Linked DNA regions of Homo sapiens. The protein of the gene in region 7 interacts with the protein of the main gene of each other region in a pairwise test. Each region holds a gene or a part of one and is shown on either strand. Other genes may lie near its edges. The genes, in order: MYO1F, CHST15, SECTM1, WAC, SH3BP2, UBXN2B and NLRP12.

Region 1 (3,500 bases), about 45 Mb from region 7:
TTGACCTCCAGGGTTCAAGTGATCCTCTCATCTCAGCCTTCCGAGTAGCTGGGACCGTAGGAGCACACCACCATGCCTGGCTAATTTTTATGTTTTTTGTAGAGATGAGGTCTCACTATGTTGTCCAGGCTGGCTTTGAACCCCCAGGCTCAAGCGATCCTCTTAACTTAGCCTCCTAGATAGCTGGGACTATAGGTGTGAGTGATTGTGTCTGGCTCGGTCTGTCTCTCTCTTTTTTTCTTTTCTTTTTTGAGACAGGGTCTCATTCTGCTGTTGCCCAGGCTGGAGTGCAATGGCACAATCTCGACTCACTACAAGCTCTGCCTCCTGGGTTCAAGCAATTCTCCTGCCTCAGACTCCTGAGTAGCTGGGATTACAGGTGCCCAGCACCACACCTGGCTAAGTTTTATATTTTTAGTAGAGATGGGGTTTCACCATGTTGGCCAGGCTGGTCTCAAACTCCTGACCTCAGGTGATCCACCCACCTCAGCCTCCCAAAGTGCTGGGATTACAGGCGTGAGCCACTGCACCCAGCCTCTCTCTCTCTCTTTGTTAAAAAAATCCCTGTCTCAGGACTGGGCATATTAACTCATGCCTGTAGTCCCAGCACTTTGGCAGGCCAAGGCAGGAGGATTGCTTGAGGCCAGGAGTTCAAGACCAATCTGGGCAACAAAGTGAAACACCAACTCTACAAAAAAGTTTTAAAATATTAGCCAGGCATGATGGTGTGTGCCTGCGGTCCCAGCTACTTGAGAGGCTGAAGTGGGAGGATTGCTTGAGCCCAGGAGGTGTAGACTGCAGTGACCTGTGATCACACCACTGCACTCCAGCCTGGACAACAGAGCGAGTTCCTGTCTCAAAAAAAAAAAAAAAAAAAAAAAAGCGGGGAATGGTGGCTCCCATCTGTAATCCCAGCACTTTGGGAGGCTGAGGTGGGTGGATCACGAGGTCAGGAGTTTGAGACCAGTCTGGCCAATATGATGAAACCCTGTCTCTACTAAAAATACAAAAATTAGCTGGGCATGGTGGTGGGTGCCTGTAGTCCCAGCTGCTCGGGAGGCTGAGGCAGGAGAATCACTTGAACTCTGGAGGCGGAGGTTGCAGTGAGCCGAGATCATGCCACTGCACTCCAGCCTGGGTGACAGAACGAGACTTTGTCTCAAAAAAAAAAAAAAAAATCCCTGACTTACTTCCTCAGTCTCCTCTTGGAGCTTCCTGGGATTGCCTCCCAGAAAAACCATTTGTCTCTGAATCCTTGCCTCAGGCTCTGCTTCTGGGGGAGGGGCAAAATGAAGACAGCAGGGACTATTGCCTTATTGTTCATGGCTGTGTCTCCAAGCACCCTAAACAGTACCTGGCACACAACAGGTGCTCAATAAATAATTGCTGAATGAATGAACTAAGAGGCACGGTCCTTCCCAAAGCTTTAGAGGCAGAAGGAAGTATCACTATGGAGCCTGGGTAGGTTGGCACAGAGAGGTGGGAACGCGGTGGGGAGGGCTGGGGTGTCCCCTAGTTGCTAAGGGATCCTCATGGTCCTTCCACCCCACCCCCACCCCAGGATCCCCCATCCCTGACTGCTTGGCCGCCCACCTGCTCGGCCTTCAGGGTAAGTTCGATAAAGATTTGCTGCAGCTTCTCATTGACGAAGTTGATGCAAAACTGCTCGAAGCCATTTTTCTGCAGAAGGAGGAAAAGGGTCCTTCCCTCAATGTCCTGGTGCTGGAAGTTCTTGTGGCCACCCTGGGCTGCCCCAGGGAGGACAGGATGTGGGCTGGAGGCAGGGGGCCGTACCTGGAAGATCTCGAAGCCGTAAATGTCCAGCACACCGATGCTGTACTCTTCCTGGGGTTTCTGCATAGCACGGTTGATGGCCTGCGGTGTGGGTGGGGACAGGAAGTCAGTGGGCATCGGTCAGATCTGAAGCCCCTGCCCACCACTCCTTAGACACACGCCTAGCCAACTTCATGGGTGATGTCCCCTCATGCCAGTTTCCCTCCAGCCCTCTTTAGCTCTGCCCTTCCTGGCTCTGTGTACAGTCTCCCCACCCCATAATCAGTCACTCAGAGGAGAAACCCAAGTGTCAGTGTATCAGGGTCCCTGACTCCAGAGCTGACTCTGCCCCTGAACCTCTCTGCACCTCTATTTTCTTTTTTTTTTTTTCTTTTTTTTTTTTGAGACGGAGTCTCACTCTGTCGCCCAGGCTGGAGTGCAGTGGCATGATCTCGGCTCACTGCAAGCTCCGCCTCCAGGGTTCACACCATTCTCCTGCCTCAGCCTCCCAAGTAGCTGGAACTACAAGGGCCTGCCACCACGCCCGGCTAATTTTTTGTATTTTTAGTAGAGACGGGGTTTCACTGTGGTCTCGATCTCCTGACCTCGTGATCCGCCCGCCTCGGCCTCCCAAAGTGCCGGGATTACAGGTGTGAGCCACTGCGCCCGGCCTTGCACCTCTATTTTCTTATCTTTAAAAGGGGTTGATAATAGCAACTACCTTATGGGGCTTTTTCTTTTCTATTTTTTTTGAGATGGAGTCTCATTCTGTTGCCCAGGCTGGAATGCCAGTGGCGCAATCTCGGCTCACTGAAACCTCTGCCTCCAGGATTCAAGAGATTCTTCTGCCTCAGCCTCCCAAGTAGCTGGGATTACAGGCATGCGCCACCACGCCCGGCTAATTCTTGTATTTTTAGTAGAGACGGGGTTTTGCCATGCTGGCCAGGGCTGATCTTGAACTCCTGACCTTGGGTGATCTGCCCGCTTTGACCTCCCAAAGTGCTGGGATTACAGGCATGAGCCACTGCACCTGGCCATACATTTTATACTTTATTTATTTTTATTTTTTATTTTGAGACAGGGTCTCAGTCTGTTGTCCAGGCTGGAGTGTAGTGGCTTGATCATGGCTCACTACAGCCTCAACCTCCTGGGGTCAGGGATTCTTCCACCTCAGCCTCCTGAGTAGCCGGGATTACAGGCACCAGCCACCATGCCCGGCTAATTTTTGTATTTTTGTAGAGACAGGGTTTTGCCATGTTGCCCAGGCTGACTCCATACATTAAAAAAGTTTTTATTTTATTTATTTATTTATTTTGAGACAGAGTCTCTCTCTGTTGCCCAGGCTGGAATACAATAGCACGATCTCAGCTCACTGCAACCTCCACCTCCCAGGTTCAAGTGATTCTCCTCCCTCAGCCTCCCAAGTAGCTGGGATTAAAGGCATGTGCCACCACTCCCGGGTAATTTTTAGTAGAGAGGGGGTTTCACCATGTTGGCCAGGCTGGTCTCAAACTCCAGACCTCAAGTGATCCATCCACCTCAGCCTCCCAAAGTGCTGGGATTACAGGCATGAGCCACTGCATCTGGCCAAAAGTTTTTTTTAGAGACAGGGTCTTGCTCTGTCACCCAGGCTGGAGTACAATAGCGCAATCATAGCTCACTGCAGCCCCAACCTCCTGGGTTCAAATGATCCCCCAACCTCAGCCCTCTGAGTAGCCAGAACTACA
Region 2 (3,500 bases), on a different chromosome or scaffold from region 7:
TTTACTGTAGCAATCATTTCACTGTCTCTATTTCCATCGAAACATCACAGTATGCTGTACACCTTAAATTATACAATAAAAAATAAATTTTAAAGAGTAAATATGTATGTTTACTTATAAAATATTCTTGTGAATATTTAAAACAAATTATTATTAATCAACCTCACTTTGAATGCCCAAAGGCATGAGGTTGACAGGGGCTAGGCTTTTTAAACAGCAATTAGTTATAGGCGATGTGTCAGAGCTGAGTCTATTTCAGGAGAAGCTGCCTCCGTCTTATATGGTCCCAGTGGCCAGGGATTACAAAAGCCCCAAGCAGCAAATCGATGACTAACCAGTTAACTGCACTTATAATTCCCCCATCCAAACTTATCAGATCAGTACATCAGGAAAAGAAGTCAATATCCCTGCTTAATTTCTTAAAAACAAAGAAATGGCAACTTCTCAAGAAAGCCATCAGCTGTCCTTAAGTCTCCAAAGAATTAGAAAGTCAACATTTCCACTTTATAGTAATGTTCAAGTGATGTGAACATTTTATGTAGTGGTAAGAGTGACAGCCAGGTGGAGAAGTGGAGGCTCAAAAGAAGTTTGCTGCCACCATGTAAATGTTCTGGAGGTGAAGCAGAGCTGGGCTAGGCCTGGAGCCAGAGCCAGGACCCCAGGGAGGGTGCTAGCCCTGCCAGAGTGACACAGACGCCTTACCGATAATGATTGTATTCATCTTGCTCTGCTCCTTTGCAGAGCTGGCCTGCAGTCCTTGATGGATCTGGTGTGCGGCCAGGTCAAAGAGGTCCAGATAATCTTCCACGGGATAGCGGTCTCGCAGCCCATCTCTTAGGCGGACGATTCCTATGAGAACCAAGAAGCAGGAGATACTGAGGACAAAGTTGCTACTGCTGGAGCGATGGCCTCCCAGACAGCAACCAAAGAGAGATGGAAAGGCCTAAAGGGCCTGGCGACAGCAGCAAGAGGCTCAGCCCAGGTAAGCTTCAGAAAGGGCTGCTGGGGATGGGGGTGGGGGTCTATGCGGCCTGGCTACCCACTTCAATCCATGCATGCTTCAAGGGCTGGAAGATACCACCACTAAGCTAGACAGTGGCAGATTAAAGGCTGGAACACCTACTCAAGAGCTAGAAACATGTCTGCTTGGAGGGACAAAGTCTGGGGCTGGTTAACTTGTGCACAGGTGGGACTCGTAAGTGGCTGGGCAGCGATGACACCCAGGATGCATGTGTTGTGTCAAACAGGGAGAGAGGACCGAGGGCTGCCCACAGGAGAGAGAAGGGCAGTATCCTATAAACTCCATGATGCCTTCCTCATGGGGCCCAGCCAGCACCTGCCTGATGTTCTCTCTCCTCCCCCTGTTCAATCAAATACCCTGCCCTTTGTCCAAACAGTAAGGGGAACTGATCATACTCTAGACAGACATGGATTCTGGCATCGGCCACATACAGCTTAAATTCACCCCCTGCCTGAAAAATAAATAAATTTCACTTGCAAACATTTAAAAATCCACTTCCCAACACCACAACTCCTGAAGTCAATGGAAATTGGAAAGAGAACATCCGTGGCCAAAGTAACAAGAGGTTCAAGGTGACATTGAAGACTAGATTCCAGAGGCCCGCCTCTGTTCTTCCTCCTTTCCTGCCGGTAGAAAGCTGGTTTTCATTAAGGGGAAATCACTGTGAGCCTCGGGGGAGCACCCTACAGCAAGGGAGTGTGTTCAGACACGTCCAGCAAATGCATAGGGATGTGAAACCCTGGCTCCTACAGTGGCGGCTGCTAAACCACAAAAGAAACATTTACACTTTAGCTCACTGTAGGACGAACATCAAAAGGATGAAAGCAAACGTTTGTCAGGAAACACATTAAGAGTTGGTCTAGGGAAAACTTTGAAGATTCCCTTCTAGTCAACCTGAGTCCATTACTGGAAAACACCCTCGTGGCCTGCCAGGACTCTGGTTGACAATAGGCACGTATCACCCCTCAGCTCCAGTGACCAAACCTCTCCTGGCACAAGGAAAAGGTTACAGAGAGGAAACAGTGATCTGAGGACCGCAGGGTGCATGGGGTTAAGCTGGAGCAGAGAGGGATGGGCAGTGGTCATGGTAAGCCTGCGGCAAAGGGCTGAGAGCAAGGCCTCCAGAATGATCTCCATGTGGTTATCATATGGAACCCATAAGGCAGATGGGGCAGGTCAGAGAAGCTGAGGCCTGAAGCAACTCAGTCTCCCCCAGGTGCAGTGACTGCAGCTGGAACAGCACATAGCTGAGAACAGCACAGAGCAGAGGAACAGCACAGAGCAGGGGAACAGCACAGAGCAGGGGAACAGCACAGAGCAGGGGAACAGCACAGAGCAGGGAGCAGCACAGAGCAGGGAGCAGCACAGAGCAGAGGAACAGCACAGAGCAGGGAGCAGCACAGAGCAGGGAGCAGCACAGAGCCAAGGAACAGCACAGAGCAGGGGAACAACACAGAGCAGGGAGCGGCACAGAGCAGGGAACGGCACAGAGCAGAGGAACGGCACAGAGCAGAGGACCGGCACAGAGCAGGAAACGGCACAGAGCTTGGGAGCGGCACAGAGCTTGGGAGCGGCACAGAGCTGGGAGCGGCACAGAGCAGGGAATAGCACAGAGCTGGGAGCCAAGAGCCCGGATCACGCCCTTCTTGCTGGCCCTTACTGGCCACTGGCACTTACTGCTGACTGCTCGGGTCATGTGCCCGGGCTTTCGGAACAAGAAGAGCTGCCAGTTCTGACTCGTCCCCGTGTCCTGCACACAGCTGGCAATCAATGCTCACTGCATGGCTGGGAACCGAGTTCCAGACCCTGCTGGGTCTTTGCCTGGGAACAGCCTCCTAACAAGGGAATTGTGCCATCTCTTTCTGCCGCCCTCGCCCCCCAACCCCAGCGCTAACGTTGCGGGAGGAATGAACGAATGAAGGAACGAGACCAGACAGGAGCCCTGGGACCCAGCACTCACCAAAGCGCTTCCGGGTCCACCAGTGTGGCTCCTTGATGGCGGAGAACTTGACCTCAGGGTGCAGCCGCAGGCGGTCATAGAGGTCTGTGGTCCCGCACTTGGGCTGCCCTATGATGTAGAAGTGCGGCAGGCAGCGCAGGCGGAAGTGCTTCCCGTGCGCGTGCGCCAGGTGGCCCCAGAAGGCCTTGCGCAGGGCGTCGAAGGTGGAGCGGAAGCGCTTGGAGTAGAGCACGTAGGAGTTGGTGAGGTAGGGGTCGGTGGTGTTCTGCCCCGAGAACTCCTCGTACCAACAGGGGCTCTTACTGTTTGGAAGGAATTTGTTGGGGATGACTGAAAACATCTGCAAGGAAACAGAGGAGGAGAGACACAGAGGAGGGGAAAATGAGCAAAGACACAATCTAACCGCAATGGGAACCTGCCCTGAGACTGACGACCGTGTTCAAATTTGAACTAATATTTGACAATGATTAACAAATAAAGCAAAACTTGGTAGACGGTCAATGACTGTGCTTTCCTCTC
Region 3 (3,500 bases), on a different chromosome or scaffold from region 7:
GCAGTGGGCTGGGCTAGTGGGGACATGAGTGGGTGGTGATCATGCCTGTGTCGGGGGAGCTGAGGCAGAGAGTGGGGCAGCGAGCATCCCCTGAGGGCAGGAGGAGAGGGGTGGGGACAGAGAAGGGTCGGGGGTGGTCCCAGCCCTGAAGACAGGAGTGGCGAGGGCAGGTGTGGTCTAGGTGCTTGTCGAGGTGGACAACATGGGAGTGGGAGTGGGAGGGGCGGGGCAGGACCGTGGCAGCCTGGGAGGCCCCTGTTCGTGGTCACTAAGGGTGCTGCGCGGGCGACCTTGAGCACCTCTGGGTGACCCCAGTAAAGGGAGGGCAGGTGCCTCGAAGCCAGGTGCTGCGGGTCTGGAGGGCCTCTCAGAGCACAGGTATTTGGGGTGCAGTTTCCCCACACAGCCGGGGTGGGGGTGGCAGGGAGGCGGGGGGTGCCTGGGCTTCCTGGCTGCAGGGTGCAGCCCCCACCCCTGACAGGCAGACTGGGCTCCTTTGAGGAGCAGCTTTGTGTTCTGTGTTGTTTGTGGGACTCCGGCTGCCCTCTGTGGGTCCCACCCCACTGTGGGGTCTGTGCCCCCTGAGCCTCCTGCCTGACCCCTGCCCCTCCCAAAGGAAGAACTGTCCCAGGAGGTCAAGAGGCCTCCACCCCAACTCTCTACCCGCCAACCCTGTCTCCTGGCAGCCCGGCTCATGCCTGCTCTTCTTCCTCCTCCTTCCCTCTCAGTCTCAGCCCTCCCCCTGCCCAGGCCCCCTCCCCTCCCCGTGTCCCCTCTCACTCCCCTCCCCCTTGCTTCCCCGAGCCTCCCCTCACCTGAAACCTCCAGCGTGACTTGTCTGTTATTTCTCTGGTGTCCCACGAGGTGCCACATGTACAGCCCAGCATGGGAGTCCCGGGCGCCTTTGATCACCAGCTGTGCCACGCCTCCCTGAACCTGGAGCTGCCAGCCGTCCCGGGAGAAGTAGCCTGGAGCCACCTCATTGAAGATGGCGCTCTCCTGCCCGTGGGCACGCAGCTTGATGTTGACATGGGAGAAGGCGTTGGAGATGTTGCAGGACATGACGGTGTTCTCGCCCCAAGACACAGAGACTACCCCCTCTGTGCAGATGGGGCTGTCCCAGCCTGTAGGGCCAGACAGAGGCACACACGGATCAGGGCTGGACCTCAGGGCATTGGCTGGCTGCTGTGCCCAGGGCCAGGGCCAGGGCAGGAGACAGGGCCTCTAAGGGACACAGTGAACTATGTATACATCCACCCGACCCAATCAGCACATATATCTCGTGTGGGAAGAATAAAATAGCAACAAAAAAGACGGGTGGCTCTGTGTGTGTGTATGTGTGTGTGTGTGCGTGCTCACACCCACGTCTGTTCCTTGGGGTGTGTCAGCTTGGACGAAGGCATTTCCTATCAACTCCCTCCCCTGTATATTTCCACTGGGGTGGGTGAAGTCAGAGCCTCAGGTGTGTGCCGGGCGGCTGCGCTGTGGCAGGAGTGCTGCCACTGACCTGCCGAATCACCCTCCTCGTGGGAAGCAGTGGCCAGGCCCCACCGCCCCCAGCTCCCTCCTGTTTCTCCAAGGCCTAGGCCAGGTGCAGGTGCTCGGCTGCGTGAGGAAGGGCAGGGCTTCTGCAGACACCCACAGGCCAGCCTCAGAGGCAAGCAGAGCAGACATGGGTTCCAGCCTGTCCTTGTGGGGCCCAGCCTGCTTGTGCCACCCCCAACATTCCCTTTCCCCTCCCGGCCACCCGCTCAGCTCCAGGTTGCTGGGCCAGCTCCATACACAGCTCCACAGTCCTGGGAGGTCAAGTCCTTGACACAAGCCGGCGTGTCAGTCTCTCTCTCCCGCCTCCTGGGTGAACCCTGCCCCATAGCGACCCGTGCAGCTGCTTCCCTCAGAGGGTCTGGGGCCTTTGCCCCAGCAGCCAGCTCAAGGATGCCTGAGATTCAGGCCGTCGGGCCCGAGCATGGTACCAGCCTGAGGTCTTGGTGCTGCTACTGTCCCTGCTGCGTCAGCGTCCACCAGTGACTGGACACGGACGGATGGACGGACAGACGGACGGCAGGGTGAGCTCTCGGGGAGCACACAGCATGCTGGTTGGAGCCGCCATTTGGCCACATTTCACCAAATACAAAACCACATGGTGGGTGCCATGTGCTGGCAAGTGCCAGGGGCCTTGGTGCCCATGGGAGGAGGTGGGCTTCAGGGGCACCTGGCCTTCGGGCTGGACTGAGTTTCCTCTGACGAGCAGGCTGGCTGCCTGCCTGGACGCTCTGAGTGTTCAGGGACTGCAGGGCCTCTAAGGCCACTGCACAAATTCACACCGTCCCGAGGGCAGCGGGCGGCTGTCCAGGGGGTGCCCCAGCCCAGTTACACTTTGGAACCACTGTTGGGGGGTGGGGGCAGAATCTCCCGAAACCAGGGTTCTTCCACCTGGGATTCTTCCCTTTCAGTTTTGTTTTGTTTTTTGTTCGTTCTTAGGATTCTGACTGAACTGCTTTGGGATGTGGTTTGGGATGTGGCTGAGCTCTGACATCTTTTAAAAGCCCCTCGGGTGGCTCAGTGGCTCACGCCTGTAATCCCAGCACTTTGGGAGGCCGAGGTGGGAGGATCACTTGAGCCCAGGAGTTTGAGACCAGCCTGAGCAACATGGCAAAACCCCATCTCTACAAAAAATACACAATTTAGCCAGGTATGGTGTGCATGCCTGTAGTCCCAGCTACTCGGGAGGCTGAGGTGGGAGGATCACCTGAGCCCAGGAGGTCGAGGCTGCGGTGAGCTGTGATTGTACCACTGCACTCCAGCCTGGGCGTCCAGCCTGGGCGATAGAGGTAGAACCCGTCTCAAAAAAAAAAGATAAGAAAAGAAAAGCCCCTCAGGTCACTTTGCTGACAGGTTGGGGATCTAGAGAGCTGGGGAGGATCTCACTGGGGGACCCTGTTCAAATGCAGATCCACTCCTGGCAGGCCTGAGGTGCGCCTGACTAAGGAGCCCCCAGGCCAGGGCTGCTGTCTGTTCCCGGCCATGGCACAGGTCGCAACTGACCCAGACCCTCTCCCTTGGAAACTGGTCGTGATCTTGGTCCTTCCCCACAATTGCTCTGACAGTGACCACCAGGTACCACAGCGGGCACCACCGCCCTCCACCCACGGCGGGACACGGCCCACTCACCACCACCCTCCACCCACGGCGGGACACGGTCCACTCACCGCCACCTGAGGCAGCCCAGCTCCACATGGTCAGGCCCTGGGTCTGCAGAGTCAGTCATTATCGGGGGTCTGGTGGCACCTGGACCCAACCTCAGTCCACCCCTCCTGCCCCTGTCATGCCCCCACCGGGCCCCCCTTTCCCCAGCAGAGAGGCGGGGCCCCGAGACCTACCTTCATTCTGAGCACTCAAGGAGGCAGCCAAAAACAGGAGGGTCCCAAGGGCCTGGGAAACGTGGCCAGGGAATGCCAGGGGGCAGGTCTGCATGGCTGGTGGGACTTGGGCCCCTGGTC
Region 4 (3,500 bases), on a different chromosome or scaffold from region 7:
CACGGCTTAATGCAGCCACGACTTCGTGGCTCAGGTGGTTCTCCCACCTCAGCTTCCTGAGTAGCTGGGACCACAGGCGCAAGCCACCACAGCTGGCTAATTTTTTGTATTTTTAGTAGAGACGGGGTTTTGCCGTGTTGCCCAGGCCGGTCTTGGAAATCCTGGGCTCAAGCCTTGCAAAATGCTGGGATTATAGGCGTGAGCCACCACGTCCATCTGACAGCAGAATTTTCGCAAGGAAAACATTTATCGTTTTATTTGAGTTTCTTTATGCTTGTCTATGAATCCAGAACAGTAAAGCTGAAAATAATAGGCAGTCTGCTGGATTCAAGCACCTTCCTTTAAAAGTGTATACCCTTACGCAAATAAAAATATCTTAGTCCTTCTGAGTTCATCATGGTTAATCAACACATTTTTGAAATGTACTTAAATCAGCTGTGAGATCCACACTTTAGAGAGCTATTATCCCTAGTTCTTTCGACCATTATAGTAGTGTAAAAAGACTCATAGGGGAGTCTGTTTTCAATAAGCTTGCTAGTACTGTATATATGATCTTGAAAATCTTAAAGAAATAGGTTGTTTCTAGTTTTATACTAAAAGCAAACAGAGTGCTGTTGTGATAGTCTTTGAATTTTCTCCTGATTTACATATATCTGAGTTTCACTGAGGGTGTGTACCTAAAGGGGAATTACTGGGTCATGTAGTGTTCGTATCTTCAACTTTTCTAAATAATGCCAAATTACTTTCCAGTGTGGTTATATCAATTTATTATCCATCAGAAATGTTGAGTAAATGTTCTCATTACTCTTTGCCAACATTTGGTATGTCTGACTTTAAAATTTTTGCATTATGGTGAGTGTAAAGGGTTATGTTGCTTTATTTTACATTGTCCTGATTCTGAATGAAGTTGAGCATCTTTTCTTGAATTTCCTAGGCATTCAAGTTCCTTCTTTGAAATAATGTCTTCTGTACATTTTTCTATTGGGCAGTTTGTCTATTTTGACGTATAGAAATTCTTTAAATAGTCTGATTACCACTACTTTGAATATAATTGTTCTGCTTTTTGTAACTTTACACATCTGCTTGGTGTTATGGATACCTTTCTGTGTTTTCCTCTAAGAGTTTTAAAGACTTAAATACCTACACAAAAGTTCAGTCTACCTTTAACTGGCTTTGTTTTAAATGTAAGTTTTTATATTTGGCAGGGCATGTCCTGCTGGCAGTGTTCTTTTTCTTCAGGTTATGGAATCTTCAGGATTTATGTTACTAGCTTGTCAAATAGTATTAACAGTGCTCTTGGGGCTTTGATTACAGTTACATTAAATCTATATAAATAATTGAAACAACAGCTTTCAAATAATTTTCCATGCGTATTTTATACATCCTTTATTTCTAAATACTATGAGGTGGGTTGTTTTTAATATTAAAGTGTCCTTTTTAATAATCTTAAAATGAAACAAATAGCTCATTGCCTTATATATTGAATTACAAAAGGGAAGTATGTAGTTACAAAACTCAGTTATTAAGTATAAAAGTCTCTTCTCATCACATCTTTAGCCCATTTTGGGTGTAACCACCTTGGTGTACCTACCCTGATTTGTATTAAGACCAGTGTCTTATTGAGGTAGGTTGTTACTGTGGCCATAAACATTTTTCACCTTATTTCATGAGATATAAATTAAATCCTGTAGAATTATATTGTCCTTTTATCCTAATGGAAGCTTATTTGAATGTGTGGTTAATAAATAATTATCTTTGAGATAGCATTGGTGGTAGACAGATTGGTACTTTTCAAATCAGATATGGGTATGATTTACCAGGTTTTATGGCTTCAGGTTATCTAACCTTTCTTGTTCAGCTTTCTTACCTATGAAATAGGGTGAGAAATGTCTAAATCATTATTCTAGTCATGTGAATGTTTACTGAGCATCTTCTGTGTGCTCCAGTGTGTAAGGGTTAAATGAGATTACTTACGTTAGGTGCCTGGCACATGAGAGGTGTTCCTTTGATGTTTGTTCCAATTTTCTCTATTCAGGTAATTTTTCAGGCTGATTATCTTTTTATTTAGAATCTACATCAGGAGACAAACCCGTATCACATTCTTGCACAACTCCTTCCACGTCTTCTGCCTCTGGACTGAACCCCACATCTGCACCTCCAACATCTGCTTCAGCGGTCCCTGTTTCTCCTGTTCCACAGTCGCCAATACCTCCCTTACTTCAGGACCCAAATCTTCTTAGACAATTGCTTCCTGCTTTGCAAGCCACGCTGCAGCTTAATAATTCTAATGTGGACATATCTAAAATAAATGAAGGTAAATCTTCATAACAGTTTTTTAAAAATTTATTTGCATTGTGCAAAGTTATGTAAGTAGTAAAATCCCCAGTTTAGGAATGGTCTTTGTTTTCTTTTGAAATTTATAGTTGAACACTTTTTTTTGTTTTGTTTTTTGTTTTTGGAGTTTGGAAATTTATATCCACTGTAGTTTAAGACCATTGGTAGTATAATTGAGTTAGTGGTGCTTGGATCTTGTGTATATTTTTCAATACTTGTTATGTGTCTGGTAGTTACTGGAGGTAAGCCATTCTATATACATAATGTGTATGGTGAAATTTTACATTAAAACAATCGAGCGTTTGTTGAAATCGGTATTAAAACTTCTGGTATGTTTCTAAAAAACCTGTATAAATAATTACTCAGAATATTTAAAATATGCTAATTACTAGAAAAGTAGGAATTCAGGTAGCTACTTAAAATACTTTCAAAAAATTCTGAGAAGGGAGGAGATAGGTACTAGATAAAATGTTGCCATTTTTTTCCTGGTGAATTGCATTATTTAATTCCAGCCTTGCTTTTCAGTAATGCTACTTACGTTTCAGAATATTTAGTCAGCCACTTTGAAAAAGTATGAATAAAAGTAGATGTGTTAATTTGGAAACTATTCAGATTCACACGTTAATTCCTAAAAGCACTGCAAAATTTTCTGTTGAAAATGATAAATTTTTAGGCCGAGGCGGGTGGATCACCTGAGGTCAGGAGTTTGAAACCAGCCTGACCAAGATGGTGAAACGCTATCTCTAATAAAAATACAAAAGTTAACCAGGCGTGATGGCACATGCCTGTGAATCCCAGCTACTCGGGAGGCTGAGGTACGAGAATCGCTTGAACCCAGGAGACGGAGGTTGCAGTGAGCTGAGATGGTGCCTGTACACTCCAACCTGGCTGACAGAGCAAGACCCCATCTCAAAATAAATAAAAATAAAGTGATCAATTTTTATGTACATTTTCACATAATATACTTAAAAGTAGTGTTAAGTGGTTAAGTTCTTATCCTAAAAATAAAGCTATCTCAGGCTAGTTGGTCATTAGTCTGTTCTTACTGTCCTTAATTTTTTTGTATTTTTATTTTATTCTCTAACCACGCAGTTCTCTTGTGTGGTAGGTAAATGTTTCATTTAGGCAAAGTGGGGCTTTTAGATAGTTTGAGGAGGCCAGATGCA
Region 5 (3,500 bases), on a different chromosome or scaffold from region 7:
CCACGCCAGCATGGGAGGCCAGCCTGTGGGTGAGGCTGAGCCCTGGAACCGCTATCCCCACAGTCATGGAAAAACGTGACTTCCGAACATCTGCATCTCTGCAGCCCTTGGTGAACTAGAACCACGAGTGTGACAAGGGCTGCTCAGAGGCACTTCCACACAGGCAGCAGGCATCTCAGAGGTGTTCGCAGAGCCCTGGGAGAAGGGCACCGTGGGCAAGGGCATTCGGGGGTGCGCGTGCCGGCCAGCACACCCATGCGAAACCTGCCCCTCCAGTTCCTGGACCCTTTGCCTGCCAGGCAAGGCAGGAAGCCCACCTGGGGTCCCAGATGCCTTTGACCACAGCCATTGGCGTAACTCTGTGGGAGTGGGGGACAAACTGGTCTCCTGGCACTTCCCAGAAATAAAGCAGAAAGCATTTCAGCAGGACGCGGTGGCTCACGCCCGTAATCTCTACACTTTGAGAGGCCGAGGCAGGCGGATCACTTGAGACCAGGAGTTCAAGACCAACCTGGCCAACATAGTGAAACCCCTGTCTCTACTAAAAATACAAAAATTAGCCGGGCGTGTTGGCAGGTGCCTGTAGTCCCAGCTACTTGGGAGGCTGAGGCAGGAGAATCACCTGAACCCCGGAGGTGGAGGTTGCAGTGAGCTGAGATCGCACCACTGCACTCCAGCTTGGTTGCCAGCGTGAGACCCTGTCTCAAAAAGAAAAAAAAACAAAGCATTTCCAGCAAGCTTCAGGGCTGAGTCATGGACATGCTCCACGTTCCACCAAGGCGGACTGGAGGCAACCGGGAACCTTCCTACCCTTGCACCTGGTACCCCGTCGTGGGCTAAGAGTGCCAGGGGAGCGAGGTGGGCAGAGTGCCCGTCAGAGGCCAGGCCAGGGTCCCTGTAGCTGGAGGCAGGGCTTGCAGCCGCCACACAAACTCACTGGAGGTGCGGGAGCTGCGGCTTCTCTGGCCTGGGCAGGACTGCGGGCCGCGCCATGGCCTCAGGCACTGGCAGCTTCAGCGCAGGAGGCCGGGGAGCCACGGGGGGCACAAAGAGTCCGGGCATGGCTGCCTCCCTTGGGGGGTCCTCTTCAGCTATCTTCAGGAACTTGGGCTTGTTGGCTGGCACAGGTGGGGGCTCAGATGTGGGTGGTCCTCGGGGGGACAGGTGGAAGGACTTGAGTTTGTCACAGTTTCTGGAGGTGGCAGTGGCCATGATGGCAGCACTGGAAGTGGAGCAGGCCCCGTGGCCAGGGGTCCAGGGCTCCGGGCTGGGGCTGGCACTCTCCCGGAAGCAAGGGGGTTTCCGGAGGCCGGGTGCGGTGGGCATGGTGCTCAGAGGGGGATCGCTCATCCTTCGGGGGGTAGCAGGTACCCTGGGGCAAGGCTCAGCCCGCCTCGGGCACAGTGGGTCCCTCTTGGAGTCCTCAGCAGCCAGGCCAACATCTGGGAGGCCGTGCTTAGGGGGCGGGGGTGGCAGTAGGGGACCGGGGCCCTTGGAGGTAAAGGAGTGGGCCCGGGGCATGTCAGAGAAGGCTGGCTTCCTGGGCGTGGGCACTGGGGGTGGTGGGTAAGCCGGTGGGTGCATCAGGGCATCTGCAGAGCAAAGAGACCCGGGTTGGACCCTGACAGAGACTGGGCCAACACTATCCTCTGCTGGCAGTGGTCAGCCAGGCCAACCAGGAGTGCAACCCATGGTAGGCCCACCCCACAGCCTGCCCACCCAGCAGCCCAGCACCCAGCACTCCCATCCTGCCTTCCCCAGGGTCCCAGACCACCCACCACCCCCAGCCTTCCCCATTCATCCTCCCTATGGCAGCCTGTGGACGCTTCCTGAAGCCTAGAGGACACCTGAGGAGCCCATCAGGTTCCCAGAGGTGGAAGGAAGAGAAAGGAAGAGAAGTCAAGAAGGATCTCAGGGCTCGGCTGGAGCGAGAGGGAGGACGGAATTCCCAAGGACAGGGGAGGGGAGCAGCTGGGAGGAAGGTGAAGGCCCGTGTTTGCTCAGAACATATCCAGAAAGCTGGGAGATGCCAGGGGATGCGGGGTCAGGGAATGTGTGCAGAGTTCAAAAATCCAGGCTGGACATGACTCGGAGCGGGCAGCCTGCAGATGACCCAGGCTGTCACCCAGGGAATTCGGGAGAGGAGTGAGGTCTGAGTCCCGGGTATCCCTCATGGGGCCAGCACAGGAGCTGAGGAGAAAGAGGACCCCGGGAGCACGGGGCGCCTGGAGGACGGGCTGGCAAGGAACAGGGCAGGCGCCAGGCTGGTGTGGCTCAGGACTGAGCGCTGGAACTGGGAATGGGGAGGCCACAGGCGTCCTGGACGAGAAATGTCTCGGGGAGAGGATGAAGGGGGTACAGAGGGAGGGTGAGTGGAGCAGTAGCATGCAGGAGCACTGGTGGCTCCCCAGGCCCATCTCTAGCCTCACTGGGCTGCAGCTCAGGGCTGGGCAGACGGAGTCTGAGTTCACCAAGGCTTGGCCAGCCAGGCTAAGACGGAAGGCAGTAGTGTGTGGGCGAAGGGACAGGCATGGTGAACACTGTGAGACAAGAGCTCTGCATGGAAGGAAACTGAGGCAAGCGGCCCGCAGACCCTCGTGGGCTGAAGGACTGTTGGCACTGGGACCCCAGAGGGAAGGAGGGAGGGAGCGGCAGGAGAAGAGGGGCTGGACCCGGGAGCCTGAAGGTGGGAGTGGATGGGAGGCAGAGAGGATACGGGGTCAGGGGCTGGGGTCGGCAGAGGCCAAGTCAGTGAGAACAGGAGGCTGGAAAACAAGGAGGCAGGGCGGACGCAGGGAAAATGGAAGGATCAAGGATCAGCCCCAGACATGAGGAAATTGACAAGATGAGGGGGCTGGAGAGACAATAGGGAGGGAGGAAGGGAGGGAGGCGACAGAGGAGGACAGAGACACGTCCTCCCCACCCAGCTCGTGCTTCCGTCATCCACGTGTGACCACCTGTATCAGCCTGTCTCTTTGACTAGGCCATGTGCTGCAGGAGGTAGGTGGACACTGGGATGGGATGGGGTGGGGTGGGACAACGACCTGGCCTGCAGCAGTGTCCACACAAGCTGGCAGCCATGGGGACATGGACCTGCCCTGAGCCTGCGCGCTCCTCAGCGTCCTTCCTTCCCCATGCTTAACCCCCAGGGCCACCCCGGCTCCACCTGCCACTTATCGCCATGTGCCTGTCCCTCCTCCTGGGAGGTGGGAGGAGGAAATGAGCAGAGGTGGCAGCAGCTACACCTCTTCTGCTCCAATCCTCATAATACTTGGGACACAGCAGGGAAGCGGAAGCCACCCAGAGCGGTACCTGGGCCAGCATCCCCAGCCTCGGAGGGGCTCTGCTCCCGGTCCCAGCCCCTGCTTCCTACACACCCAGAGCTCCCCGGGCCCACCCGCCCCACCTACCCTCAAGCCTTCCGGGCTCCGGGGAGTCAGGCTCCAGGTAGGAGTCATCCTCATCGTCGTGCTCATAGTCTGCATGGGGAGAGGGGGGTG
Region 6 (3,977 bases), on a different chromosome or scaffold from region 7:
GTGGGCAGATCATGAGGTCAGGAGATCAAGACCATCCTGGCCAACATGGTGAAACCCCGTCTTTACTAAAAATACAAAAGTTAGCCGGGCATGGCGGCACGCACCTGTAGTCCAAGCTACTCGGGAGGCTGAGGCAGGAGAATTGCTTGAACCCGGGAGGTGGAGGCTGCAGTGAGCCGAGGTCGCGCCACTGCACTCCAGCTTGGGCGACAGAGCGAGGCTCCGTCTCAAAAACAAAAAGTGCCTAGGATAAGAAGACCAGAGTCTAAATCAATTTCAGTTGAATGACGAGGGCTTGATAGTCTCGAGATCTGCTTTTTTTCTTTTTTGAGACGGATCCTCCCTGTGTCGCCAGGCTGGAGTGCAGTGGCGCGATCTCGGCTCACTGCAACCTCCGACTCCCTGATTCAAGCGATTCTCCTGCCTCAGTCTCCCCAGTAGCTCGGACTACAGGCACGCTCCGCCACGCCCAGCTAATTTTTGTGTATATATATATATATATATGTGTATATATATGTATATATATGTGTATATATATATGTGTGTGTATATATGTGTATATATATATGTGTGTGTATATATATATATATATATATATATATATATATTTTTTTTTTTAGTAGAGAAGGGGTTTCACCATGTTGGCCAGGATGGTCTCGATCACCTCGTCCGCCTCGGCCTCCCAAAGTGCTGGGACTACAGGCGTGAGCCACAGGCCCGGCAGAGTTCTGCTTTTAGCAAATTATTCCAAGCACTTTTTACGGTGTTTTTCACTCTCAGTGCTAATTCACGCTGTGGTGACGATGTACCATCCAATCCTTGATAGGAAAGATCAGAGAATCTGACCAAGACTAGATGGAGAGGTTGCAATTTTTCATCAGATGAAAAATCCAGAGGATGTTTTCATTGTTGAGCTAAATGAATCTGCAAGTCTATGCTGCCCTCTAGGGCGGCCTACAGTGCCTTTAGGCGAGTAGCAGGAGCAACACAAAACTTAACAGAGGTTTCCCTGCGGAGAAACTCCCTTTAAGAAAAAAGGAGAAACCAAAAAGGTGGGCCAGCACCGGAAGCGGGGGCGCGGGTTCGGGTAGCGGGGACGCGCACGCACCTTGCGCGTCTTCGCCCCTCCTGCGGTTGCCAGGCAACCGGCCCCGGAAGTTGCGGCAGGTGCGTCCGCAGCGGGCGCCGCTAGCCAGCGGAAGATGGCGGAGGGCGGAGGCCCTGAGCCCGGCGAGCAGGAGAGGAGGTCTTCCGGGCCGCGGCCTCCGAGCGCGCGGGATTTGCAGGTGAGGCGAGGAGCCGGGGGAGGGAGCGCGGCGGTGGACGCGGGCTGGTGACGGCGCGGGCTGGTGCGAGTTGGAGGCCACCTCTGGCCTCGGCGGAGCCTTTCCCCGACCCCGTCTGGGGATAGAATCCGGCGCCCGGTCTCCCGATGTCGGGTCTTGACACTGTGGTGGTCGTGAACACAAGTGCCCAAGCCTCCAGCGCTGGTGCTTTGTCTCCCTTCCACCCCACGTATGATGTAAAAATAGCTATTCGTTTAGAATGACATTTTGCGGGGTCAGTTGGTCGGTTCACGGGTTGATGCTTCCTTCTTGAGACTTACTCCAGAAGAAAGGTTACTGTGGCCGCAGGGAAGTAGACAGTCACCTGAACAGTAATGATACGTGATTTGTTCTTTTTTGTCTTGGATGCTATTTCTGACTTGCTTACTTAAATATAAAAATGGTTCCATTTTATCAGGTAGGTTTTTCTTTTAAAGGGGTGAAGGAAAGCGATGCACTCTATGCCCATACAGCCTAGTTGTCTAAGCTGTGGTCTTTAAAACATTGCACTGAAGAAACTGGGAAATAAAATTTCGTAATGTTGTGTAGGACACTAGTATTAGTTAGCTAAATAGTAGCGCACCAAATCCCGTTTTATCAGATACTAACGCCACTTTTCTCATTTTAGGCGTTTTTGTGTCTCATTATAAGATTATTGATAAAAATTTGACAAGTAAATATCAGTAAGGAGATACTAAGGAGAATCTTGGTAGAACAGTTTTACTGTATTACTTTACAACCACACTTCATTCTAATGTGAACAAACCACCATCCATTGTAACATACTGCTGAGCTTTGCGAATGTGGAAATAAGGACATCAAATCCTTAGTCGGTGCTGAACTCTATTGATGGGTAGGTATGTAAGTGTAAAAGACAGTTCTACCTTTTGGAAGCCTACAGATTTCTTCGGAGAAATAGGGTATGAATACTTAGCATAACATTTTAAGATGGAGTATGATTGGGTGCCAAAATAAGCAGTGCATAAAGCGAAGAATTTGGAGGCTGGAGAGATCAGTGTAACATTAGGAGGTGAACTTAATGTAGAATAGTTCCAGCTCCCATAGTTGGTTCAGTAGTAGTAAACAGTATCAAGGGATAGGAAGCTATTGTGTACCTCATCTTTCCTATTATAAACCCACATCACTAAGAGGCAGCATGGAGTTAGTAGTCCCACCAATTTTGGTTTGCCTCTTAGTCCTGCTACTTAGTAGTTTTGTGAACTTAGGAGAAATGTCTTAACCTGTCTGATCCTGTGTCTTCATTTGTAAACTGAGGAAGGTCAGGGTGCTGGTGGTGGTGTAAGGATTAAATAATGTTATAAAGGGCCTATGCAAAATTCCTACATTATCCTGGCTCAGTTGTTGCTGGGCAAATATTTGATTCCTTTTTCCTCAGGAGAAAGATGCTATAACTTTCCCTGGCTAGTCAATTCTAATATCATTAAAGTTAATAGAGTGTGTAACTTAATGTCCTTTCCCTAATTTAAATCCATTTCTTCTTTTTATGTGAAAAGTGAGAACAGCTTGCTTAATGACCACCTGATTCTTGGCAAATTGTTTGCAGTCTTAATCCAGTGGATCAAAGTACGATTAATGTTTGGAGATACTCTGGTAGATGTTGCTAATTGTGAGAATGCCTTCATTTCCACCCTAAGTTATGATGGGGATTTTTTTTTTCATCTCCTGTCTACTTGTTGTAGGTTAGGGCAGTAGGAAGATAACTGATTTCTTTATGAATGTGATTTGGTGTATCAAGTACAGTATCTAAGTATTGATAATCTTTCCTTTAGAACTTAATATGAATGTGAAGAACTTGCAAAGAAACTTGAAAACAGCCAAAGGGATGGCATATCAAGAAATAAAGTATGTATCAAAAGTTTAAAAGAATTAAATAATGTTCTTCCCAAATGGTACCTTGGATATTGATTATTTATAGATTATCTTGTTACCGTTTAATCTAGACATGCTTTTCTTAAGAGTTACGCAGTTCGTGCAGCTTTCAGTAGATATTTCTTACTTCCCTAACAGCTTGCTCTAAGAGTCTTTCAGAGTGAGTAAAGGGGCAACATATTACCAATTGGAACAAGCAGAATTACCCCTGAGTAAGTGTATCTTAGCTGCCATGCAGTGTAGGGTTTGTCAGCATCTGAATCAGGAGGGAGTGTTCCAGGTACCACCAGAGAAAAGCTGCATAGTTGCTTCCCAAAAGGCCTCCCAGCCCTGGGAGCCCCCAGGTTACAAACTGCAGACTCGGAAATGTTTTTTTGCATATCAGAGTAGATTTTCATAGCTCCCTTCATCCCCCTCAAATAAGGAGATGGTCATGGGGAAAGTTAGGGGTGGGATTGTTAGTGGCAAAACTAAGCCCAAAACCTCACCAGTGTTCAATAGTATTTCTGAATTGCTTTCTCTTCTGGTGTCCCTCAGCCCGCCACACACATGTTCATTAAGGTATTTAGTTGTATACTCTGTCCCAGTTTTCCTCCACATATTATCTGTTTCTACATAGGTTGGACGGGGAGGGAGTGGGAACAGGGATAACTTCAGTATTGTTAGGGTTAGGATTGGATTTGTTAGGATGGACTCAATAGTGGGTACTATAAATGAGAAGAATTAAAATGTCTGATAGCTGTTCTGATAACTGTGTTGCCA
Region 7 (3,500 bases):
CACATCCACGTAACCCACTGGTCAGTACTGGGGAATCTGCCCATTCTCAGAGCAACCACTGACAGAGGGGAACGAGGTTACTCATGACTGATTTAGCAAAACCATAATTCATCCTCTGAGGCTTGTGAAGGGGCAGGATTCACCACTCACTCGAGTCATGAATCAGCATCCACCAACCAAACAGAATCAGGTTTGCTGGCAGGGAAGAAACCGGGGTACAGTCTGCTGGGTAGACAGCAACACTGTTAACAATGCCACAAATGTTTCTGGCTATTTTTTTCAAGGGGAGCATGAAATGAATCTAGTCTCCAGCTCTACTAAAGTAGAATAAGAGTGGGTTCACCAGCTGAGCAAGGTGGCTCACGCCTGTAATCCCTGCACTTTGGGAGGCCAGGCTCTGAGACCAGCCTGGGCAACAAGCAAGACCCCATCTCTACAAAAAAAAACAAAAAATCGAACATTAGCTGGGCATGGAAACTTGTGCCTGTAGATCCAGCTACTCAGGAGGCTGAGGTGGGAGGATTAGTTGAGCCCAGGAGGTTGAAGTTGCAGTGAGCCAAGGTCACGCCACTGCACTCCAGCCTGGGGGGAGTGAGAAAGACCCTGTCTCAAAAAAAAAGGCGGGAGAGGGGTACAAATATTGTATGATTCCACTTATCTAAGGCACCTAGAGTAGTCAAATTCAGAGGCGGAAAGTAGAACAGCAGTTGCCACGCCCGGCATGGTGGCTCACGCCTGTAATCCCAGCACTTTAGGAGGCTCAGGCGGGCAGATCATGAGGTCAGGAGATCGAGACCATCCTGGCTAACACGGTGAAACCTTGTCTCTACTAAAAATACAAAAAAATTAGCCAGGCGTGGTGGCAGGCACCTGTAGTCTGAGCTACTTGGGAGGCTGAGGCAGGAGAATGGTGTGAGCCTGGGAGGCGGAGCTTGCAGTAAGCCGAATCGTGCCGCCGCACTCCAGCCCAGGTGACAGAGCAAGACTCTGTCTCAAAAAAAAAAAAAAAAAAAAAGAAAAGAAAAAAAAAAAAGAATAGCAGTTGCCAGGGAGAGGAGAAATTATGAGTTAATATTTAATGGATATGGAGTTTCTGTTTAGAATGCTGAAAGCATTCTGGAAATAGACATTGGCGGCCAGGCACAGTGGCTCACGTCTGTAATTCCAGCACTTTGAGAGGCCGAGGCGGGCAGATCACTTGAGGTCAGGAGTTCGAAACCAGCCTGGCCAACATGGTGAAACTCCGTCTCTACTAAAAATACAAAAATCAGCTGGGTGTGGTGGCGAGCACCTGTAAATCGAGTTACTCAGGAGACTGAGGCAGGAGAATCACTTGAGCCTGGGAGGCGGAGTTTGCAGTGAGCCTAGATCATGCCACTGCACTCCAGCCTGGGGGACAGAGCAACACTCTGTCTCAAAAAAAAAAAAAAAAAGAGATATTGATGATTGCACAACATCGTGAACTTAGTGTCACAGAGTTGTACGCTTTAAAGTGGTTAAAATGGTAAATTTTATGTGTATGTCACTATAATTAAAAGTACACATATTTGTTTTGAAAATTTTAGTATCAAACTCAGATTCTTTTTTTTAAGCTTCTCTCAGGCAGCTATCATGGGCCTCTGCTGGCATCCAATACCAAGGGATGCATTTGTATCCAGACCAGGGTTTCTCCACATTGGCACTGTTGGCATTTCGGGGCCAGAGCGTTCTTTGCTATGGGGTCGTCCTGTGGTTCCTGGGATGTTGAGCAGCACCTCTGGCCTCTATCCACTATGTGGCAGTAGTACTTTCCCAGTTGTAACAACCAACCCACTTGTCCCGTTGCCAAATGTCCCCTGGGGAACTAGGGGACACAGTCACCCCAATTAAGAACATTGTTCTAGATTTTTTTTTTTTTTTTTTGAGGCAGAGTCTCACGCTGTCGCCCAGGCTGGAGTGCAGTGGGGCGATCTCTTACAGGTGTGAGCCACTGCACTTAGCCCAGGGACTGCATTTCTAACAAGATTGCTGCATGATATGTATGCGTCTTAAAGTTGGAGAAGCACAGCCAGGCATGGTGGTTCATGCCTGTAATCTCAGCATTTTGCGGGGCTCAGGCAGGAGGATTGTTTGAGGCTAGTAGTTGTAGACCAGCCTGGATAACACAGCAAGACCCTGTCTGTACTGAAAAAAAAAAAAAGTTTGAGAAGCACTGCTCCCAAGTTTTCTGTGCCCCCTTTGTTTTCTCTTTCTTTTGTTTTTATAGAGACAGGGTCTCACTATGTTGCTCCGGCTGGTCTCAAACTCCTGAGTTCAGGCGATCCTCCCACCTGGACCTCCCAAAGTGCTGGGATTACAGGCGTGAGCCACCGCACCTGGCTTGTGCCCCCTTTGAAAAAAGGCAGATTCATGTCTGCACTATCTGGTAATGTACCCGTTCTATAAATCCTTTGCTGAAAGTCACTTTGTGGGGCTGGACACAGTGGCTCATGCCTCTAATCCTAGCACTTTGGAAGGCCGAGGTGGGCAGATCATGAGGTCAAGAGATCGAGACCATCCTGGCCAACATAGTGAAACCCCGTCTCTACTAAAAATACAAAAATTAGCCAGGCCTGGTGGCATGTGCCTGTAATCCCAGCTACTCGGGAGGCTGAGACTGGAGAATCACTTGAACCCAGGAGGTGGATGTTGCAGGGAGCACACCATTGCACTCCAAGCTGGGCAACAGAGCGAGACTCCATCTAAAAAAAAAAAAAATTAGCCAGTCTTATAACCTAGTCTCAAAACAAATAAATTATTTTAATTAAAAAAAATTTTTTTTTGAGATGGAGTCTGGCTCTGTTGCCCAGGCTAGAGTGCAGTGGTGCGATCTCAGCTCACTGCAACCTCCACCTCAGGGGTTCAAGTGATTCTCCCATCTCAGCCTCCTGAGTAGCTGGAACTACAGGCACACACCTTCTTTGAGCCACATGAGGAGCGCTTTACCTCGTGAACTCATTAGAGGCTGCTGATGAGTCTTCCACAAAACCTTCATTCCTCTCCCCTAGATCCCCAGGAAACCTACAGGGACTATGTCCGCAGGAAATTCCGGCTCATGGAAGACCGCAATGCGCGCCTAGGGGAATGTGTCAACCTCAGCCACCGGTACACCCGGCTCCTGCTGGTGAAGGAGCACTCAAACCCCATGCAGGTCCAGCAGCAGCTTCTGGACACAGGCCGGGGACACGCGAGGACCGTGGGACACCAGGCTAGCCCCATCAAGATAGAGACCCTCTTTGAGCCAGACGAGGAGCGCCCCGAGCCACCGCGCACCGTGGTCATGCAAGGCGCGGCAGGGATAGGCAAGTCCATGCTGGCACACAAGGTGATGCTGGACTGGGCGGACGGGAAGCTCTTCCAAGGCAGATTTGATTATCTCTTCTACATCAACTGCAGGGAGATGAACCAGAGTGCCACGGAATGCAGCATGCAAGACCTCATCTTCAGCTGCTGGCCTGAGCCCAGCGCGCCTCTCCAGGAGC

Evidence for each region.
Region 1: the proteins of NLRP12 (region 7) and MYO1F interact in a two-hybrid assay, tested with the Homo sapiens proteins (one large-scale study listed by IntAct).
Region 2: the proteins of NLRP12 (region 7) and CHST15 interact in a two-hybrid assay, tested with the Homo sapiens proteins (one large-scale study listed by IntAct).
Region 3: the proteins of NLRP12 (region 7) and SECTM1 interact in a two-hybrid assay, tested with the Homo sapiens proteins (one large-scale study listed by IntAct).
Region 4: the proteins of NLRP12 (region 7) and WAC interact in a two-hybrid assay, tested with the Homo sapiens proteins (one large-scale study listed by IntAct).
Region 5: the proteins of NLRP12 (region 7) and SH3BP2 interact in a two-hybrid assay, tested with the Homo sapiens proteins (one large-scale study listed by IntAct).
Region 6: the proteins of NLRP12 (region 7) and UBXN2B interact in a two-hybrid assay, tested with the Homo sapiens proteins (one large-scale study listed by IntAct).

The regions. Positions count from the first base shown.
Region 1 is NC_000019.10:8,546,443-8,549,942, forward strand, and holds part of MYO1F (unconventional myosin-If), read right to left. Parts: intron 1,876-3,500; coding exon 1,795-1,875; intron 1,681-1,794; coding exon 1,594-1,680; intron 884-1,593; exon of another isoform or gene 1-883. UniProt on the Homo sapiens protein: Myosins are actin-based motor molecules with ATPase activity. Unconventional myosins serve in intracellular movements. Their highly divergent tails are presumed to bind to membranous compartments, which would be moved relative to actin filaments.
Region 2 is NC_000010.11:124,041,599-124,045,098, forward strand, and holds part of CHST15 (carbohydrate sulfotransferase 15), read right to left. Parts: intron 3,322-3,500; coding exon 2,982-3,321; intron 850-2,981; coding exon 703-849; intron 1-702. UniProt on the Homo sapiens protein: Sulfotransferase that transfers sulfate from 3'-phosphoadenosine 5'-phosphosulfate (PAPS) to the C-6 hydroxyl group of the GalNAc 4-sulfate residue of chondroitin sulfate A and forms chondroitin sulfate E containing GlcA-GalNAc(4,6-SO(4)) repeating units.
Region 3 is NC_000017.11:82,323,767-82,327,266, forward strand, and holds part of SECTM1 (secreted and transmembrane protein 1 precursor), read right to left. Parts: 5' UTR 3,475-3,500; coding exon 3,381-3,474; intron 1,125-3,380; coding exon 816-1,124; intron 1-815. UniProt on the Homo sapiens protein: May be involved in thymocyte signaling.
Region 4 is NC_000010.11:28,606,118-28,609,617, forward strand, and holds part of WAC (WW domain-containing adapter protein with coiled-coil), read left to right. Parts: intron 1-2,068; coding exon 2,069-2,314; exon of another isoform or gene 2,315-2,325; intron 2,326-3,500.
Region 5 is NC_000004.12:2,827,585-2,831,084, reverse strand, and holds part of SH3BP2 (SH3 domain-binding protein 2), read right to left. Parts: intron 3,480-3,500; coding exon 3,411-3,479; intron 1,593-3,410; coding exon 938-1,592; intron 1-937. UniProt on the Homo sapiens protein: Binds differentially to the SH3 domains of certain proteins of signal transduction pathways. Binds to phosphatidylinositols; linking the hemopoietic tyrosine kinase fes to the cytoplasmic membrane in a phosphorylation dependent mechanism.
Region 6 is NC_000008.11:58,410,184-58,414,160, forward strand, and holds the start of UBXN2B (UBX domain-containing protein 2B), read left to right. Parts: upstream 1-1,177; 5' UTR 1,178-1,202; coding exon 1,203-1,286; intron 1,287-3,977. UniProt on the Homo sapiens protein: Adapter protein required for Golgi and endoplasmic reticulum biogenesis. Involved in Golgi and endoplasmic reticulum maintenance during interphase and in their reassembly at the end of mitosis.
Region 7 is NC_000019.10:53,810,815-53,814,314, reverse strand, and holds part of NLRP12 (NACHT, LRR and PYD domains-containing protein 12), read left to right. Parts: intron 1-3,026; coding exon 3,027-3,500. UniProt on the Homo sapiens protein: Plays an essential role as an potent mitigator of inflammation. Primarily expressed in dendritic cells and macrophages, inhibits both canonical and non-canonical NF-kappa-B and ERK activation pathways.